2 separate regions of the Homo sapiens genome follow, and region 1 is linked to region 2. The links come from fine-mapping of genetic effects on gene expression. Tissue or cell type: amygdala. Region 2 holds a variant in brackets; the other region holds the start of a gene. All regions are shown on one strand. Distances are between the middles of the regions.

Region 1 (4,000 bases), 430 kb after region 2:
GTGGTGTGGCTACCTGCTGCAGGTTCATTCTGTTCTTTGGTGGGATCCTTATGGCCAAGGGACTTGGAGCCAATTAAACATTCTAGGCCAGATGAGGATGGAGGTGAACAGGCACTCATTAACCCTTAAAAACCTTTTGAGCAACAGAAGAGCCAAAAAGCAAGGTTACAACAGTGACTTACCTGTAAGTTCTATGTGACGAGTCATCAGCTGTTTAGTAACCTGTATGACCTGTTAACCATTTTTGTAGCCTGTGAATATCAGATGTTCATTTAAGTCAGAACCTTAAACATGTGGATATTTTTGCCAACAACTCAGAAGCTAACAAAACAGCTAACAACTTAGCTGTTTTCATTGAACCAACAATATTAAATTAGTCTTATTTGTCAAAAAATTCACACAAAGATCATTCTCTTTTTGACTGGGTTTATAGTCTTATAATCTTTTGTGCCAAATCCTGATACCTTAAAACACCTAGCGGAGGCAAATATAAAATAATCAGTAAACCCAGACTAAAAAAAAAATGTATGCTGACAATTCTGAAGACATTTCTAGTTTTATTTTACCAATAATTTTAAAACCATTTTATTTACCAGATTACTAAGTTCACATGAATCTGAAAAGTATTTGGACTTACTTAATTTATGAGTATAATTTACTTATAAACCAGTTTGGTACCATGCTAGATACAACACAACATAATACATGTTCATATACAAACATTTAAACACATACACACAAAGATCTTACAGCTTTTACTCTGGAACCTTAGCCATGAGATGGTAATACAGACTCACCACTTAACAAAAGACAGCTGGATCCAAATTATTTCTGACAAAATTGGGACCTGTTCACATGGCTAAACTTTATTTGTCCCAGTAGGTAATCCAATGAAGGCTATGGACCAAAGTCTTGGGAAAAGTAGTTTTCATGGCAGTTTTATTTTTAAAAACCTTTTACCCCTTTTTTTTTTCCTGAAGTTTCAAATGAGTTTTCAGTGTTTACATTTTAGCTACAATTGGCTGAACTGTAAAGAAAGCTCCAAGTAGCCTTGAATTAGTAGTATCATAAACAATGAGTTTTATCTTAACAGCAGTAGCTTAATAACAGCAAATTCAAAGCAGGCCGAAAACAAAAAAGAGATAGCTTTAGAAAACTCTACATTTTAATTGTATAGTTGCAGGTTGGGCATTTGAGCTCTGAATTTTCCTTGCTGTAATTTGCCCGTTCAGTTTTAAAATGTGCACAAGAACAGGCCACAATATGCAGCTAGCTGAAGTGCTGGAAAACCTGGCATGCCTTTGAACTTCTACAGGAGTTCCTGCCCCTAGTGGGTAAGTTACCTATTGCACTGACTTTATGAAGATATCTCTTCCAGTGCCCTTAGTGTGAGCATCCCCACAAACCTTATGAACCAGTTGAATCCAACCTGAATGCCTCTCCATAAGCCCGGAGCCCACAAATGCATTTTCTCCAGGGCCCTTGGATGGAGGGAATCAGGAAGGCCTCCTCCAAACCCAAGGCTAGGAGAGATGTTCCCTCCGGGGTCCAGGGAGGAGAACAGAAAGGACTGAGAAGAACTAGGAATGCCCTCCCAAACCCAAGGCCAGCAGGAGGGTCTCCTCCGGAGTTCCACAGATGGAGGAGGCCTAAAAGAAGAAATCAAGTCTGCAACCTAAAAGTGGGAGATCTTGGATTTTGATAGCACTTACCCAGATCCTTTCCCAGCATAGTCAGGAACAACTGGACTTTTTCAAAGGGACCTTGGCTGTACCTGGTGTCCTGGGTGACACAGGAAAAGGAATTCAGGGGCTGCTTCAGAATCCCATCTTTGCCAGATACGTTAACTTTAAAAAAAAAATCATAAGATACAAATTTAGAAAAATGGAGACACTATTTCTTAAGGGTGACAGCCTGCCAGGTGGCCATCCTGCAGGCCAGGAAGCACAGCCTCCTCCAGCAGAAGCCCAGAGACAGGCACCTCCAAGGAGGAGGGGTTGGGGTAGGAGTTTTATGCTTTTATGCTGAATGGGTTGGCTTAACACATATTCAACAGGTTACAGGAGGAGCTATGAATATTAATGAAAGTGGTCCTGATGCATGCATATTAAACATGCATCTTACATATGACACATGTTCACCTTGGGGTGGAGACTTAATATTTAAATATTGCAATCAGGCCCTATACATCAAAAGGTCTATTCAGGACATGAAGGCACTCAAGTATGCAATCTCTGTAAACCCGCTAGAACCAGTCATGGTCGGTGGGCTCCTTACCAGGAGAAAATTACCGAAATCACTCTTGTCCAATCAAAGCTGTAGTTATGGCTGGTGGAGTTCAGTTAGTCAGCATCTGGTGGAGCTGCAAGTGTTTTAGTATTGTTTATTTAGAGGCCAGTGCTTATTTAGCTGCTAGAGAAAAGGAAAACTTGTGGCAGTTAGAACATAGTTTATTCTTTTAAGTGTAGGGCTGCATGACTTAACCCTTGTTTGGCATGGCCTTAGGTCCTGTTTGTAATTTGGTATCTTGTTGCCACAAAGAGTGTGTTTGGTCAGTCTTATGACCTCTATTTTGACATTAATGCTGGTTGGTTGTGTCTAAACCATAAAAGGGAGGGGAGTATAATGAGGTGTGTCTGACCTCTTGTCCTGTCATGGCTGGGAACTCAGTTTCTAAGGTTTTTCTGGGGTCCTCTTTGCCAAGAGCGTTTCTATTCAGTTGGTGGAGGGGACTTAGGATTTTATTTTTAGTTTGCAGCCAGGGTCAGTACATTTCAGTCACCCCCGCCCAGCCCTCCTGATCCTCCTGTCATTCCTCACATCCTGTCATTGTCAGAGATTTTACAGATATAGAGCTGAATCATTTCCTGCCATCTCTTTTAACACACAGGCCTCCCAGATCTTTCTAACCCAGGACCTACTTGGAAAGGCATGCTGGGTCTCTTCCACAGACTTTAAGCTCTCCCTACACCAGAATTTAGGTGAGTGCTTTGAGGACATGAAGCTATTCCTCCCACCACCAGTAGCCTTGGGCTGGCCCACGCCAACTGTGGAGCTGGAGCGGGAGGGAGGAGTACAGACATGGAATTTTAATTCTGTAATCCAGGGCTTCAGTTATGTACAACATCCATGCCATTTGATGATTCCACCACTCCTTTTCCATCTCCCAGAAGCCTGCTTTTTAATGCCCGCTTAATATTATCAGAGCCGAGCCTGGAATCAAACTGCCTCTTTCAAAACCTGCCACTATATCCTGGCTTTGTGACCTCAGCCAAGTTGCTTGACTATTCTCAGTCTCAGTTTCTGCACCTGTCAAATAGGGTTTATGTTAACCTAACTTTCAGGGCTGTCAGGATTAAATGAGCATGAACCACATAAAATGTTTGGTGTATAGTAAGTGTACAGTAAATACTTCCATTATCAGTCCCTGCAATTCTATTTTTCTTCCTTCTCTACACAGCCCCTGTCTGGCTTTAAAATGTCCTGCCCTGCTTTTTATGAGTGGATACCCCCAGCCCTATGTGGATTAGCAAGTTAAGTAATGACACTCAGAGACAGTTCCATCTTTGTCCATAACTTGCTCTGTGATCCAGTGTGCATCACTCAAACAGACTATCTCTTTTCTCCTACAAAACAGACAGCTGCCTCTCAGATAATGTTGGGGGCATAGGAGGAATGGGAAGCCCGCTAAGAGAACAGAAGTCAAAAACAGTTGGGTTCTAGATGGGAGGAGGTGTGCGTGCACATGTATGTTTGTGTTTCAGGTCTTGGAATCTCAGCAGGTCAGTCACATTGCAGTGTGTCGCTTCACCTGGCTCCCTCTTTTAAAGATTTTCCTTCCCTCTTTCCAACTCCCTGGGTCCTGGATCCTCCAACAGTGTCAGGGTTAGATGCCTTTTATGGGCCACTTGCATTAGTGTCCTGATAGAGGCTTAATCACTGCTCAGAAACTGCCTTCTGCCCACTGGCAAAGGGAGGCAGGGGAAATACATGATTCTAA
Region 2 (8,362 bases):
TATTATTTGGTTTTTTATCATGTGTATGCATTAATTTTTTAATTAATTAACAGTTAAAATGGAAAGCAACGGACAAATAAATATGATCCCTGTTTCTAGCCTACCCTTTCTAATCCAGCCAGACTTTCTCCTACCTACCCTCAAATGAGCAATATTTATTCTCAAAATGTTTAGGTTGCTCCTCTGGGAAATGCTTTCCTCATTGCTGCTGCTGCTTCAAATCCTGCTCAACTCAAGTCCCACTTGCTTCAAGAAATTTCTTCCTAGTAATTCCAGGCCAATTTGACCACCGACCACCACCACAAAAACCTGCAACCTTTCTTTACTTCACAGCAAGCACTTGGGACCTGAACAAAATAATCGAGATCACCATTTGTGTTCTCTACTTCACATGCCTTGGGCAGAGGTGCCCATTAGAACCTGAGACTCACTCTCTGTAAGGAGGTCCACCAGGGTCCACTGGGGATGGAGAGCCACCTCTATGGCACAGAAGTTGTCTTACCAAGAGCAGCACAGGCCAATCCCAGCAACCTTCAGCTAAATCAGGGACTTAACAGAGCAGCAAGCACCCTCTTGGTGTCTTCAAGGTGTCAAAAGCTAGCTTTGGAGAGCATATACTGCAAAGAGAGGGTTGGAGCAGGAAAGGAGAGAAGTAAAACAAAGAAAGCCCCCTGGGCTATGTAGGAAACAATGCCAGCGACTCACTGAAGTGGCCCAGAAGCCCTACCACATTAGATTACAGAAAAGGAAAGCGTTGAGGGAGTGTTTTACGATAGCAGGAGGGTCTTCTGTCTTTTGTGCACAGTAAAAGATGTGGACATGTCCATTTGGAGGGTGAAATAGGATGACACTCAATGGCTCTGGAAGAAATGGAGGAAGGCAATTCAGGGCTTGGGCAGGGGAAAACTCCAGGTAGAAAGAGAAAGATGCCATCACGGCAGGGGGCAGGAGAAAGTCCCCCTTTAATAGCAATGACAGCAAAAAGTTGACTTGGGAAAACAGGTAAGAAAGATAAAGTTTTGGAATCAATTTTCTCAGCAGTATGTAAGCTGACGTCATCTTCAGGGAAATCCGCGTTACTAATCAGCACCTCCTAATTCCTGCCCTTGGTGGATCCTCGCTGTTTAGTCTTTTTCCTCAGTCTTTCCATATTTCAAGTACTGTGAGATCTTACTCTACTAAAATTCAGGTTCTTGAAGATCCTAAGTCCTTTGCCCTTTATTTCATTCTTAGTGAAATTATTTGCTTCTTTATATACAAGCAAATTTCTAGGTCAGAATTCCTTCTTGAAGATATACAATTATTTTCCCTCTTCAATTAGAAAATGCTGTTTTCCCAGCTGTTTTTAAAGACTAAAACCATAACAGACTTGAAAGGGCTCCTAAGTCACAAATCAAAATTTATTTCCATCCAGCTTAATGCTATCCAAACATGTCTAGTTTTTGTCTCTCTTTGCATTTAAAGTTTTCATTTTATCCAAATGAAGTAGTTGGTGGTTCTAAAGTGGTTTTGTGCTCAATATAAAGTTTACTTTTGTTCAAGTCTTTTCTTTTCTGGCCTTAGTACTAGGTTTTCCAGTTCACTTATAAAGAAAGCTATCCAACTATTTTTGGAAGAACAATGCATTTTGGTAATCTACCAGGATGATTTGATGTTGAAGTTATTGCAGCTCTTCAGATATCCAAGTCCTTGTACATGATCAATTAGAGCTGAAAATGAAGTCGAAATGTTCCTGGCATGCCAAGTACACTGTCACTGTTGTAGAAATAAGATGTTTGTTGTTACTTTGTTGAACACATATTGCCAATCAGTTTGGGAATACTGAAATTCTGTATGATTTTTCAGTCATTGTCTATCATTTTAGAGCAATCTATTGCTTTCAGAATTGAAGCTCAAGGCACGTTAGATTAAAGGAAGTGACTTTTGGAATCTGAACAAGAAAATTTTCTAGGGCAAAATAAAACATACAAAATCACTTCTTAGTAATTTCTTCATTCTGTCAGAGACATTCTATATGACGTCTTCTTTTGCTCTGTTAATTGAAGAACTGGCAATCTGGGGCACTTTCCCAAGTAATAAAAATGAGAGAATTACAGCCTAGGGAAGTGAAGAGGAAAAAGAGAGGTAATTGTACTTGAAAGCACAGCATTTGGCCCACAGTAAACCATCAGTAATGTCTATTGAATCTTGCATAACAACAAGAAGGTTGAAAAGAATGATATGAGAAATTGAGTCAAAAAATTAAGAAATAACCACTTCTGAGTAAGAACCTAAATGAACATTTAAAAAAATTTCCTTCCTGTTACTATGGCTTTGAAAGTCTCTAAGTAGGAGGAAGGTCTTAATCTTATTCTGATGATGCCTGAATCCCTGGCCCTCAAACTAGTCCGCCATTTCTTCTGGCCAGTATTGGGAGCTGGATGTGAGACAGAGATAAACAGCATGGCCAAGGAGGGACAATAATACAGTTAGTTGTAGAAGCTGGGCCCAAATAGGGCATAGAAAAACAGGGGAAGACAATGACCTTTTGTTTCCATTAGAACTATACTCCAGAATTCATAGTCCCAATAGGTAGAGATACCTATTCCTCACAGAAGAAAAGAATGAAATAAACAGAATTTTATTTATTATATACATTTTTACATAAATTCAAATTTGTATTTTTGTAGAAATTCTCCCTTTTCCACCATTTTTTGATCCCCAATCAATCCTAAAGTGGAACCTAGAGAAGAATAAGTTCCCCAAATAAACGGTGGGATGGGCAGATGAGTAGAGGCCAAATCTTTTTTTCAGATTCAGGAAAGTTTTAGATATTTCTAAAATGTCCCTCGAGTCTTTCTTGCTCATCATAATAAAAACAAAAACAACAAAAATACAATAGCAACACATACTATATGCCAGGCACTGTGACAACTGTTTCCCATGTAAAAGCTTATTGAATCCTCCCAACCACTAAGTGTAATAGATACTAGGACCTCACTTTACAGATGAGGGAATTGAAGTTCACAGAGGTTAAACAACTTGCCCAGGATTAAGGTTACACAGCTAGGAAGTGGTGAAGGCAAGATTCAAATGCAAGCTGTGGGAATTCAGAATATGCTTTCATTGTAATGGGTGTGCCCTCTTCCCACTGTCCTAGTTAGAGGTCACTTGGATTATTCCCTTTGGCTCCAAAATATCTGTATAGAAGCTCCTCCCCAGGAGTCTCCAGGGGTCATCGTAGGTTACAGAACATTCTGTACATTGCAGGGAAGTTTCTTCTGAGGGGCCCAAATGATGGGGCTTGAGCCAGTGTTGGTATCGTAACCTCTCAGCCATTAACTGGGTGGCCAATGAGAGAGAGCTGTGGTGCAGGCATGCAAAGTTCTCACATACACGAAGATCAGGAGGTCTGCTGGGGAGGCCTCAGGTTTAGTATATCTCTTGTGTGCTCAAACAGTGCCCATCACAGCAGATCTTCCTCCAGGACTGGAGCACCAAGCTGGCATCAGACCTATTGTTTAAACAACTCTCTAGAATCAGGTTTTAGGCAACAGGTGCCTCTGATCCAGAGCCTTTCCTACTTTTCCCAGGATCCCTTCCCATATGCTCTTTAACTGAACTTTGATAGGATGTTTCACCCGGAAGAGTTTAGAATCCCACTAGTCTAGATTCAAACCATGGGCAACCCTGCGTCTCCACAACCTAAGACATAGGGAGGGCTCAATGTTCAGAAGCACAATGCTCTACCTCCCCTCCCAGGATGGGAAAGGAAAAGCTTTCATTTGCAAGACAGGGTCAGGGGTGTTGGGAGAAAAGAACAGAAAGAAATGAGTATTCATATTAAAAATGTAACCCTTGGCCATGCTACCTCTGGGAGACCCTGATATTAAACTGATCTAGGCAAGATGAGAGCAAAACTCCATCTACCCAAAGCCTGCATACAACTTTGTGCTCCCATAACCTATTTGGCTGCTCTGCCACAGTGTTTATTACGCTGCATTATGTAAGCCTGTCTCCCCATTAGACTGCACAGGAACTAGAGCAAAATGGACACTCAATAAATGTGAAGTAAATGAAGAAATGTGCAAATTCGGCTGGGTGCGGTAGCTCACACCTGTAATCCCAGCACTTTGGGAGGCCGAGGCGGG[C/T]GGATCACGAGATCAGGAGATCAAGACCATCCTGGCCAACATGGTGAAACCCTGTCTCTACTAAAATACAAAAAATTAGCCAGGCGTGGTGGTGTACGCCTGTAGTCCCAGCTACTCAGGAGGCTGAGGCAGTGGAATCGCTTGAACCGAGGAGGCAGAGGTTGCAGTGAGCCGAGATCACGCCACTGTACTCCAGCCTGGGGACAGAGCAAGATTCTGTCTCAAAAGAAAAAAAAAAAAGAAATGCGCAAATTCACAAGATCTCACAACAGAAGAGCTGCAACATCACACTTAAACTCCTGACCTGTTGTATGGAGTCATTGATTTAATTGCTGTGCTGCATTTTAGTTTGAGTCCATACTTTCCATATAAACATTTAATCATCCATCCATCCATCCATCATTTATTCATTCATTCATTCACACTGAATGCATTTTTTGAGTGTCTACCATGTGCAAGCCACTATGCTAGTCTCTAGGAAACTGAGAGCAAGCCAAAACAGGACATGCTGAGGACACCAGAGCAAGATTTTCCCCTATATTTTTCACAAAGTTGAAATAAAAAAGAAGAAAAAAATACAGAAATAAGTTAAATAATGAATAGTAGCTGCCAGAGAAAAGACTGGAGATATGCTCAAGGGAGAAAAAAAATGTCTTTCAAAGGTGATTGGAAAAGAAAGGCATTGGCAACACAGGGAAAAAAAAACAAAACAAAAAAAAAAAACAAGGAAAGACATTCTAGAAGGCAGGGAGTTATAAAATAGATCCTTAGTAGTGAGAAGAAATAAGTCTGCCAGTGCATTCTTATATTGCTACGGGCAAAGAAAAAGGGTGCCTGACTTGTCTGCATATTCTCTGAGAAAGTCCAGCTGTTCTCTGGAAAGCAGAATGCCTGCCTCTGGAGTGGAGCTGAGCCTTGCAAACTGATTAAAAAAACATGTACGGTCAGAGAATAAACACAAAGCTCAAGGATGTCTTGCTGTGTGCACTTTATGGGCACAGAGTACTGCTGCTCCTTTAATATAAAGCTATTATCCACAGTTGCTGACTCATGTTCCTAAATTCCACAAATGTCTTCCATTTTGTAGCACGCTCCTAACAGGCTTTCTATCCTTCCTGTGGATATCTCATCTGAGTTTGAGAGTGAGGATCCCAAAAGGAAGAATCCCAAGGGGAGTGTCCAGAGAGCAAGTGTTCCAAGAGAACCAGCCAGAGGCTGCATGTCGTTTTATGATCTAGCCTCAGAAATCACACAGTGTCACTTCTACCATACTCTATGGGTTCAAATGGGCACAAACCCACTGAGAGTCGAGGGAAAAGGACATAGACCCCACTTAAAGACAAGAGGTATGTGAAAGAATTTGAGGCCATATATTAAAACCAACATACTCACCAACTTTTTTTTTTTTTTTTAAATAGAGGACCTGATGCCTGGAGCTGCAGCAGCCATCTTGTAACCATCAGGAAAAACTCGAGAGAATCCCAGAGACACGAGTGCTGGCAATATGGAGCTAATGAACCAATCAGAAAACTGCTACCTCCAGACTTTTGAAGACGTGAGAAAAATTAACTCAATATTTGCTCTAGCCATTTTTAGATGCATTTGTTACTTGCAGGCGAAAGCCCTTCTAACTGATACACTACCTCCAGAGACAAGTAGTATAGACTCAGAATGTCATTAACAGATCTGGACGTGAAGGAGGCATAGAAATATAGAAATAAGATAGTGTTTCAGTCTTTCGTTACTGAGTTTCCATCAGTTCTGGCTAAGTCTCAGAGAATTTCAGAATGCTGCATAATTAGAACTAATTGACAAATTTTCCGTATAAAACTCATATAAAAATGCATTATTCCTAAAAATTGGTGAAGCCCTTCATGCCTACAAAGCACTTCCTGGTCTTCAGCCCCACAACTGGCATAGTTGATTTATACTCTTATTCCCATTCAGTCACAAGCCCCAGCAGTTCAGGAAATAAAGACATTTGTCTCTTCCAAGAAATTATACCCTTAGAAAACAAACCCTGGAAGAAGCACTGAGATTTCAGAAGGATGAAGAAAAGTCAAGAACTCCTCCAAATGTAAAAGTGAGGAAAAGCTCAAAAGCAATGGGTACCTGCTTCTTCCTACAGTGGGTGCCATCCCTATTCTGTCTAGAACACAGACACACACACACACACACACACACACACACACACACACACAGAGTCTGCTCCAAGAGTTGTTTTCTGAGCTCACCTGCCTGAGTTTGCCGAATCATCTATTTAACTCACGGGGCTAAGCACATTACCTCTTGCAATATGTGCTCATTGTATGTGTAAATGAAGTTCAGGAAAGAAATTAACTCATCATTCAGAGAACAGTTCTCCATAGTCAGTCCCCAACAGTAGATTCTGAGCCTGAGAAGACTTACTTCAGAAGTTGCTCTAGAGTTTAATATAACTCCAGTATGTGCCATTTGCTTCTGAGACATATGGAGTGCTTTGAGCTTCCTGGTCACAATAGAAAATGCAGGAATTGTTTTCAGAGAAGCTTCTGCTTCCCATTAGATAAAGCGATTCATTATCCCCATGGACATTTCAGCGTGTGCTCAGACCTCACACCACAGGATCCTCCTGTGGGGAGTTTCCACAATTGACTTAGTGAGGGCCAGCTTTTGGGCTGTGCTAGATCCATGGTGAGACACAGCTCAGAGCATCCGAACTCCTCCCTTCCAGCTTGCAGACCCCCCGCACTGCTCTGCTGGGGAAGCCCTACTCTCCAGATCTCCAAGAGAAGGTACTTTATTCTGGCATCCTTTATCAGTCCCAAGGTTACCAGCTAGGACCTTGCATTCCTCCTACTCTTTGCAGGCTTTGAGAGACCCTCAGAAGTATATGGTTCAGGCTTCTAACCCCACTCTTGGGTCCAACAATGCTTTGGAGTACACTGGACTGTAAATCCCAAGGCTGGTGCCCTGAGCACTATAACAAAACAGAATGACTTTAATATAAGGCAGAGTTTTATTTTTGAAAGTAAACAGGGACACACAATTGGACTCTTTCTAAAGCTTCCAATTTTCTCAAATTTTCCATTTGGATGATATGCATTAAGCCCATCCTTAGTGACCCCAGCTGGTCATTATCATTACTAACAACAAAATATAGCAGATATTTATTTGGATAATGATGCTGACTCAGTAGTCTAGAGGGAACACGCTTATGAAGGAAGGAGCTGCAGTCAACATTGTGCAAGTGATCTGCTGCTAAGCCTGAATGGGGCAGGACTGAGGTTCTGTAAAGAAATTACACTAGCTCCATTGTAAGGTGATGGTAAGTATGTGTGTGTGTGTGTGTGTGTGTGTGTGTGTGTGTGTGTGTGTATGCAGGTGCACATTTGTACTTTATCCCCTTAGAGGAAATGGAATCTTTTATTTTGTGAGGCATTCTGTTTTGCTGTTTTTCTAGCAATACATAAAGCTGTCTTATTCTAAGAAGGTCAAAGCATTTTATAGACATTACCTCAGCAGGCCATGCAAGAGTCTAGCAGAGTCCGCATGGTCAGGTATTATTGTTTCCTGAATCAATGTCCTGCTGCAACTCCTAAAAGGGCTCTTGAATGCTAACCAAAGTAGTCCCACCACTTCAAAGCTCACAGATGCTTAAATTAGACTTGAAGGTGAGGGTTCAAGGGAGGCGTTTTTCTTGGTTTCTAATTCTTGCCATCTGGTCTTAATCTGACTCCAGAGAGAAGCAAGCTGGCGGGTGACAGCTTAGAGCATGGCTAGTCTTTAGAAATGCCACCCAATCCTTTTCTGCATAATTGGTACCAGGATTTGCATAGATTTGCATACATTATGTATCTATCAGTATTCTTTTAGATCCCATTTAGAATTAAATTAATTTTGCTATATTTAAGATGTCATTCTAGGTGGCTTTTTCATTTTCTTTTTCAGATGGTTGTGCTACCTGCCTTTATTAGCCATTGCTGTATTGGGGTTTCCCAATGAAAACTGCTCTGTCAATAGCAAAGCCATTCATTTAATAAATACGTGTTGAGTAAATGAGTGAAGCCAAGATCTTGACCTGTCCATCCCAGTTATTAATCCTGAATCAACATCTTTAAGCTTGCTTGGGCTAGAGAACAATTGAATGTCTGGCTAGATGTGGGGAGCAGAACGAAGGCAAGGGCTACCCACAGGCTGGCCACGGAGAAGATGGACGGCATGTCTGATGCCTCAGGCTGTAGAAGTGGGGC

Evidence for each region. PIP is the estimated chance that this variant, and not a neighbour inherited with it, causes the effect.
Region 1: it holds the start of LINC01963, and the variant in region 2 is fine-mapped to the expression of LINC01963 in amygdala (GTEx, PIP above 0.99).

The regions. Positions count from the first base shown.
Region 1 is chr2:216,214,825-216,218,824 of GRCh38, forward strand. It overlaps LINC01963 (long intergenic non-protein coding RNA 1963), which reads left to right and starts at 2,065. Exons shown (of 1, transcript NR_037701.1): 1 at 2,065-4,000.
Region 2 is chr2:215,779,447-215,787,808 of GRCh38, forward strand. All of the region lies in intron 1 of LINC00607 (long intergenic non-protein coding RNA 607), which reads right to left. Among named protein-coding and RNA genes, the nearest start is that of LINC00607, 60 kb to the right of the region's middle. The variant C/T (reference allele first, on the strand shown) is at 4,131.